Linked DNA regions of Homo sapiens. The protein of the gene in region 2 interacts with the protein of the main gene of each other region in a biochemical or structural test. Each region holds a gene or a part of one and is shown on either strand. Other genes may lie near its edges.

Evidence for each region.
Region 1: the proteins of ITPR1 (region 2) and RHOA form a complex in vitro, tested with the Homo sapiens proteins (one study listed by BioGRID).

The regions. Positions count from the first base shown.
Region 1 is NC_000003.12:49,405,325-49,409,059, reverse strand, and holds part of RHOA (transforming protein RhoA isoform 1 precursor), read left to right. Parts: intron 1-2,253; exon of another isoform or gene 2,254-2,348; intron 2,349-3,735. UniProt on the Homo sapiens protein: Small GTPase which cycles between an active GTP-bound and an inactive GDP-bound state.
Region 2 is NC_000003.12:4,678,183-4,681,917, reverse strand, and holds part of ITPR1 (inositol 1,4,5-trisphosphate-gated calcium channel ITPR1), read right to left. Parts: intron 1,366-3,735; coding exon 1,227-1,365; intron 555-1,226; coding exon 500-554; intron 1-499. UniProt on the Homo sapiens protein: Inositol 1,4,5-trisphosphate-gated calcium channel that, upon inositol 1,4,5-trisphosphate binding, mediates calcium release from the endoplasmic reticulum (ER).

The DNA.
Region 1 (3,735 bases), about 45 Mb from region 2:
TCCCAGCACTTTGGGAGGCCGAGGCGGGCGGATCACGAGGTCTGGAGACCATCCTGGCTAACACGGTGAAACCCCGTCTCTACTAAAAATACAAAAAAAATTAGCTGGGTGTGGTGGCGGGCGCCTGTAGTCCCAGCTGCTCTGGAGGCTGAGGCAGGGGAATGGCGTGAACCCGAGAGGCGGAGCTTGCCGTGAGCTGAGATCGCGCCACTGTGCTCCAGCCAGGGCAACAGAGCGAGACTCCGTCTCAAAAAAAAAAAAAAAGGATCTTAAGTATTTTGTCTGACTCTGCCATTTAGTTTATTCCTTTGTTTACCTGCCCAATGGAACTGTTTGCTTGTAACTACACATTAATATAACTAAATTTTGAACTTAATGTTACATGCCTTGCTATACATGGGGCTCTTTGGGGACATGCTCATTTGTGGGATTAAAATTTCCAAGACGGTTTGAAGTTTGTAATTACTATAAAATCCCTCATCTTTAATCTGTGGAGCTGTAGTATTAAGTGAAGGCCTTGGTATGTTCATAATTACGATAGTCATGTGACTGAAAATCAGGCACTGAAGCTGCTCGTTCTGGGTGTTGGTCTCAGTTTATTGATGCTTCATCCAAATACATTTTTATAGCTAATAATAAAGAAAAACATCAAATACTCTTGCTAAATTGCAATCAGTATGCAGTTTATGCCAAACTTAGCTTGATTTTATTTTTTGAAGAGGATGAGTATGTATATTTAAGCATATGTGTGTGTGTGTATATGTATATATACTTGTGTATACGTATATACGTGTATACGTATATATATGTGTACATATACGTGTATACGTATATATATGTGTACATATACGTGTGTGTATGTGTGTGTGTATATATATATATTTTTTTTTTTTTCTCTTTTGAGACTGAGTCTCACTCTGTCGTCCGGGCCAGAGTGCAGTAGCGCCATCTCGGCTCACTGCAACCGCCGCCTCCTAGTTCAAGTGATTCTTGTGCCTCGGCCTCTGGAGTAGTTGGGAGTACCAGCATGCGCCACTGTGCTCAGCTAATTTTTGTATTTTTAGTAGAGACGGGGTTTCACCATGTTGGTCAGGCTGTTCTCGAACTCCTGGCCTTGTGATCTGCCCCCCTTGGCCTCTGAAAGTGTTGAGATTGCAGGTGAGAGCCACTATGTCTGGCCATATTTAAGCATATTTATGATAGTATCTTAAATTTAAGTGAAGGGAAAGAGGAAAACATACACAGCCAATGAAGTAAGTTTGAAGTGGAGTGAAAGGAAAAGTTGGAGGTAAAAAGAGGTTAGAGAGGTGGGCAGGGGCCAAATCATATAGGGCCTTTAGGACATGGGAAATTCTTTGGATTTGTTCTGAGATTAGAAGTCATTTAGATATTCTTTAGAAAGGGAATGACATGATCTGATATTAAAAAAAAAACTAGAATCACTGTGAGTAGGAGTAGATCTAATTCCATTCTGACTAAATAGTAAACTAATATGATAATTTGGACAAATATAAAAAGGAATTCCTGGCTGGGAGCAGTGGCTGATGCCTGTAATCCCAGCACTTTGGAAGTGCTGGGCAGGTGGATCACTTGAGGTCAGGAGTTTGAGACCAGCCTGGCCACATGGTGAAACCCTGTCTCTACTAAAAATACAAAACATTAGCTGGGCGTGGCAGCAGGCGCCTATAATCCCGGCTATTCAGGAGGCTGAGATAGGAGAATCACTTTAACCTGGGAGGCGGAGGTTGCTGTGAGCAGAGATCGAGCCATTGCACTCCAGCCTGGGAGACGGTGCAAGACTCAAAAAAAAAAAAAAAAAAAAAAAAACGGAAAGGATTTCATAATATTAATTTCCTTGACTTAGTGACTTCTGCCTATTTTATTTGAAGTCATTGGTTCTTCTCTTCTCTTCTCTTGAGACAGGGTCTCACTGTCACCCAGGCTGGAGTGCAGTGAGTGATCTTTGTTCACTTCAACCTTTGTTTCCCAGGTTCAAGCGATTCTCGTGCCTCAGTCTCTAGAGTAGCTGGGACTACAGGTGTGTGTGTGTGACCATGCCCGACTAATTTTTGTATTTTTAGTAAAGACGGGATCTCACCATGTTGGCCAGGATGGCCTTGATCTCTTGACCTCGTGACCCCGTGACCCACCCACCTTGGCCTCCCAAGGTGTTGGGATTACAAGCATGAGCCACTAAGGATTTGTTTTTAAAATTTTTTTGCTTTATTTTTTTCTTCTCTTTTTTTGTACTAGAGATGGTGTCTTGCTATGTTGCCCAGACAGATCTTGTACTCCTGGGCTCAAGTTGTCCTCCTGCCTCAGCCTCCCAAAGTGCTGGGATTAAAGATGTGAGTCAAGCGATTCTCGTGCCTCAACCTACCCACTAGCTCGATTACAGGTGCCATCCACCACCTGCCCACCACCCTTGGCTAATTTTTGTATTTTGTATTTTAGTAGAGACAAGAATTTTACCATGTCGGCCAGGCTGGTCTCAAATTCCTGACCTCAGGCAATCCACCCGCCTCAGCTTCCTGCTGGGATTACGGGCGTGAGCTACCCTGGCCAAGATTTTTAATTTCTGAAGCTTATAGCTGCTCTAAAGCACAAGGATTCAGTCCCATGATTTAAAAAAGTTGCTTGTTTTGACTTCAAGTATATGGTTGAGCATTCTAACTTTTGTTATGTATACATTTTTATTTTACTGTATTCTTCTAGCCATTGTATCCTAGTCTGTATGTTGCAGATGAGTTGTGATTCTCTGGTGTCTCTTCCATGGACCTAGAGATCATATGCTCTACTACTGGGATTTTTTTTTGTAACTTTGTTTGGGATATAGGCTTTGAGAGGTTAAGGAAGTAAATTTAAGATGGATATTTAATGTTGTAACACTTTGTTAATGCTTTTTTCTACAAGATAATTTTATTATGTGATATGGCAGCTTTGTTGGAAATACCTGTTTTTTTGTGTGTGTGGAAAATTTCTTTTCTGGATGAAATCTCTTGTTTAACTTTTCCAGTTATTCATAATGAAGCTCTGTTTATCTTTTGAAGATCTTAAGTTCAGAAACAGAAGGCAGGCTGCGTATGGTGGCTCATGCCAGTTATCCCAGCACTTTGGGAGGCCGAGGTGGGTGGGTCACCTGAGGTCAGGAGTTCGAAACCAGTCTGACCAACATGGTGAAACCCCATCTCTACTAAAAATACAAAAATCAGCCGAGTGTATTAGTGAGTGCCTGTAATCCCAGCTACTCGGAAGGCTGAAGCAGGAGAATCCCTCGAACTTGAGAGGCGCAGGTTGCAGTGAGCCAAGATTGCTGCACTCCAGCCCGGGCAACAGAGCGAAACTCCGTCTCAAACATACACACAAAAAAAAGAAGGAAAGAAAAGGCAGTAGAGTATCTTATTTAAGAGCATGGATTCTGGAGAGAAACTGACAGTTAAATACTAGCTCTGACACTTGATGGCTTGAGACCCTTGGCAGTAGTATGTCTCCTTTGTAATTCAGTTTTTTTCTTCTGTAGAAAGGGAATGGTAAGGAAGCGCCATGAGATTTCAGTGAGAGAGAAGCACTTACCTCAAGTGCCAGACATGTAGCCCTTCAACTAACTTATTTTATTTATTTATTTTTTGAGATGGAGTTTTGCTCTTGTTGCCCAGGCTGGAGTGCAATGGCGTGATCCCAGCTCACTGCAACCTCCACCTCCTGGATTCAAGTGATTCTCCTGCCTCAGCCTCC
Region 2 (3,735 bases):
TTTAAAGGGGTTCATACATTAATATTAGGAACAATGAAAGACCAGATTTTGCTTTCTTTGTTGCATAGCCTGTAAGGAGCTCAGGGATAAAATTGTAGCCCAGCAGCAGCAGCAGGACATGATCTTACTAACTTCACTCTGTTTTGAGCCCCTCTCTCTTTCTATTCTTCTTTTGATTGCATTTCCTCACTATGTAAAAATAATCTTGTAATGTAGGTATTTTGAGAAATCTCCTTAAATCCTTTCTGTCCTAGGTGGGACACACACACACACACACACACACACACACACACTTTCTCTCTCTCTCTCTCTCACTCTCTCTCTCCTCCCAATCAAGCCAACCAAGTTAACTCTGACTTGAGTACTAACAGTTCCAAAGATAGCACCAAAACAACCTAAGCCCAGAGACTAAATATTTACTAACATAATAAAGGGAAGGCCTCTGAGAGCTCTGGAAGAGCAGCCTTCCCTACAAAACAGTAACTGAAAATATACTTTCCTTCCTCCAAAGATGCCTTCTGCTTGTTCTTCAATGTGTTCAAAGTCAAGAGCACCTGAAAAGTTAGAACATACCACTTCAGATGCAGGAAGGTCTGCAAACATGCTGCTGGTGAACTCATCCATAAGTTTTGCAGGGTAAAGCTGTTGAGTTAACCCCAAATCTCCCAGAACATTATATTGCAAAGCTATGCAGAGTGACTAACCCAGATGACATTAACCACATATTCCACATTCCTGCCCCTTCCTCCCTCACTGCATGGTCCCCTGGTAAAGGACAGCAATGATCTCACTCATGGAAGCTTGGGCTTGGTAGATGGGATTATTTCTACTCCTACCATCTCCCGTCACCACTAGTTCCTGGGCAGGGAAAAACTTCCAAAGTGAGTAAAAGCTGCTAGTGGTCAAGAAGTCTCCTGGAGAGTTTTTTGTTACTGTTTTTATTTTGGTATTTTTGCGGGGGAGGTGGGTAGCCACAATGCTGGAAACCTCAACTGTCTCATCACTAAGACACTCCCAGATGGAAGGAAACAAGATCCAACCCAGAAGGAATCTGGGCTCTATCAATTATTCACTTGCTCAAAAAGAGTAACTGCCAGGATGATGCCCTGGTGCAATAATCCTCAAAACCATTTTCACCCTTTTTCTAGAAGATACTGTTTGCTCTCCCCATTTTCCTTAGAGCCAGGTCCCATTCTATGGCTGAAATTCCATTCTGAATCACTAACCTGGTACATTACTTGGCCCTTCTTGGCTGCTGTTTCCGGAGGATGTTTCTGAAGTCTGGGAATTGCTTTCATCAAACTCTCGCTTAAATATACACAGGAGGCAGGAGATCCTATAATCCAACCTCACATTCAAAATAAACTAAAGATTCAAGTGGAAATGGAAACAGATTGGTTACATTAACATACCATCTTGACTCTGCCAAGCCACCACACACTGGCGGGGCCTGGTATCAGCTGCATCAATTACCTTAAGCACTAAGTGAGCCAAGTATTTGGCTTAGATTTCAACAGTCATTTTAACAACAGCAGACTTCCATGGGGCATATGAAGTCTGCCCATAGCACCTTAGCCTCTAGTGTAAGCTTCAGCATCCTGGCAATTAATTTAACAATTGGAACACTAAATCACTCACTCCTGGCTCCATAAATGGAGTCTATAAAACAAGACTCCATTTCAGTAAGTATTGAATGTCAACTCTGGGCCTAACACTGAAAAGAGTGAAGTTGCCTGCTTTGGATTTAAGAGAATTAACAAAAAAAAATTTGTTTTTTACTATGGAAAATTAGCTTGGTTCCTATTTCCTGTTTCTGGTTGTTTCCCCTGGTTTGGGTACAAACCCTTGGACACCCTCTTCTTTTGCCTCCTGTATTCCCTCACCCTTTATTCCAACACAGGGTCACTTTTCCCAGGATTGCTGCTAGAACCAAAAAGAAAGATTGAGCAGCTGACATCATGTAGGGATCTCACTCACGTTCTTCCTTCCGTTCTCCCCTTGTCTCTGCTTAGCCTCCCAGCAACCTTTCCCAGTCCAGTGGCCATCACCTCTTCCAGAGGGAGATAGGTCTCTGGCCTGCCTCCATGCTCTCAGTGTATGTGTCCTACAGACTGTTGGACATCCTATTTGCTATCTTCCCAGGGCCTCAAACTCAGTGTTTCACAAAAGTAACTGCGATGGTTAATTTTATATGCCAACTTGACTGGGTTCAAGGACACCTAGACAGCTTGTACAACTTTATTTCCGGGTAAATCTATGAGGGGGTTTCCAGAATGGACTGGCATTTGAATCAGTGAGCTGAGTAAAGAAGATCCGCTCTCACCCAGTGTGAGTGGGCACCATCCAATCCACGGAGGGCCTGGATAGAGCAAACAGGTGGAGGAAGACCGAATCCACCTGTTCTGGAGCTGGGACACTCATCTTCTCCTGCCCATCAGAGCTCCAGGTTCTCCGGCTTTTGGCCTCAGACTGAGAGTTACACCTTCAGCTCCCCTGGTTCTCAGCCTTGGGACTCAGGCTGAATCACACCACTGGCTTTCCCGGGACACAGCTTGCTGTGGCAGACTGGGGGACTTCTCGGCCTCCGTAACTGCGTGAGGCCAATTCCCATAATAAACCCCCTCTTGTCTATCTGTATGTATCCTATTTGTTCTGTTTCTCTGGAGAGCGCTAACACACTAACATTGTCAGTCTTGCCTTCATCTACTTTCTGCCTGGGTTTCCTCAACCTCAGTCAGTTGCCTGATCATCAGCGCCTCCTTCCTGGACACACATCTAATCAGAGACTAAGTCCTGGTGGTTCTCCATTTACCGCTTCTCATAGAGTTCTCCCCTACTGCCGTTTCTCCCTGCTCAAGGCCTCATTATCTCCTGCCTGTTCCATTTACAGAACCAAATTCACCAAATCAGCCTCCTAACCACTTGTTCTTATGTTAAGCTCCCGCTTGAAGACTTTCAAAGGCTCAACAGAGAATAAGCCTTAGCATTTTAGACACCCAAAGCTCTGTGCAGTGTGGCTTGGTCCTCCTTTCCAAACTCACTTCTGACAACTTCCCCTCAGCACACTCTATGTCTCTGCTCAGCAAGAACTGCCCACTGACCTGCATCCCATGGTACTCGGCTTCAGGCTGCTCCATCCACCTGAGAACGGGCCCTTGTTTCTCCATGTACAAAGCCCATGCACCTTAAAGGCTCAGATGAAACCCTACCTCCTCCATCAACCCTTCTCTGATCTTTACCATGTGGAGTCACATGACCCCACTCCCGGACTCCAGTCTCAGAAGAACTTTCTGGTGGTTTTATTTCCACATCCACGCAGCTTCATCATACCTTATTCTCCCATCAGACTATAAACCCCTGTGGATGGAGCCCCTGTTCGAATCATTTTTGCATTCCTCACAGTGCACATGGTAGGGAGTCAATAAGTACCCGTGGAAAGAATGACTCAATCGACCAATCCTTCTTAGGTCACCACGGTGAGTGGACCTCAAGATGTGACCAAGTTTTGCACTGCGTCGTTTCTGATAAACGTCCAAGACACCACTTTGGAACACATGGACCATGGCCTGCAAATTTTATATGTATATTTTGTCTCGACAAAAAAAATTGAAAATAAAAGTAAAAATAAAATTTATTAAAAAATAAAGTTTTAAAAAAGGAATCTTTCTCTACTGTTGCTCAGGCATAAATTCAGTAAGATTTCTCCTTTACTTAAGCTGTCTTTATCGTCCTAAT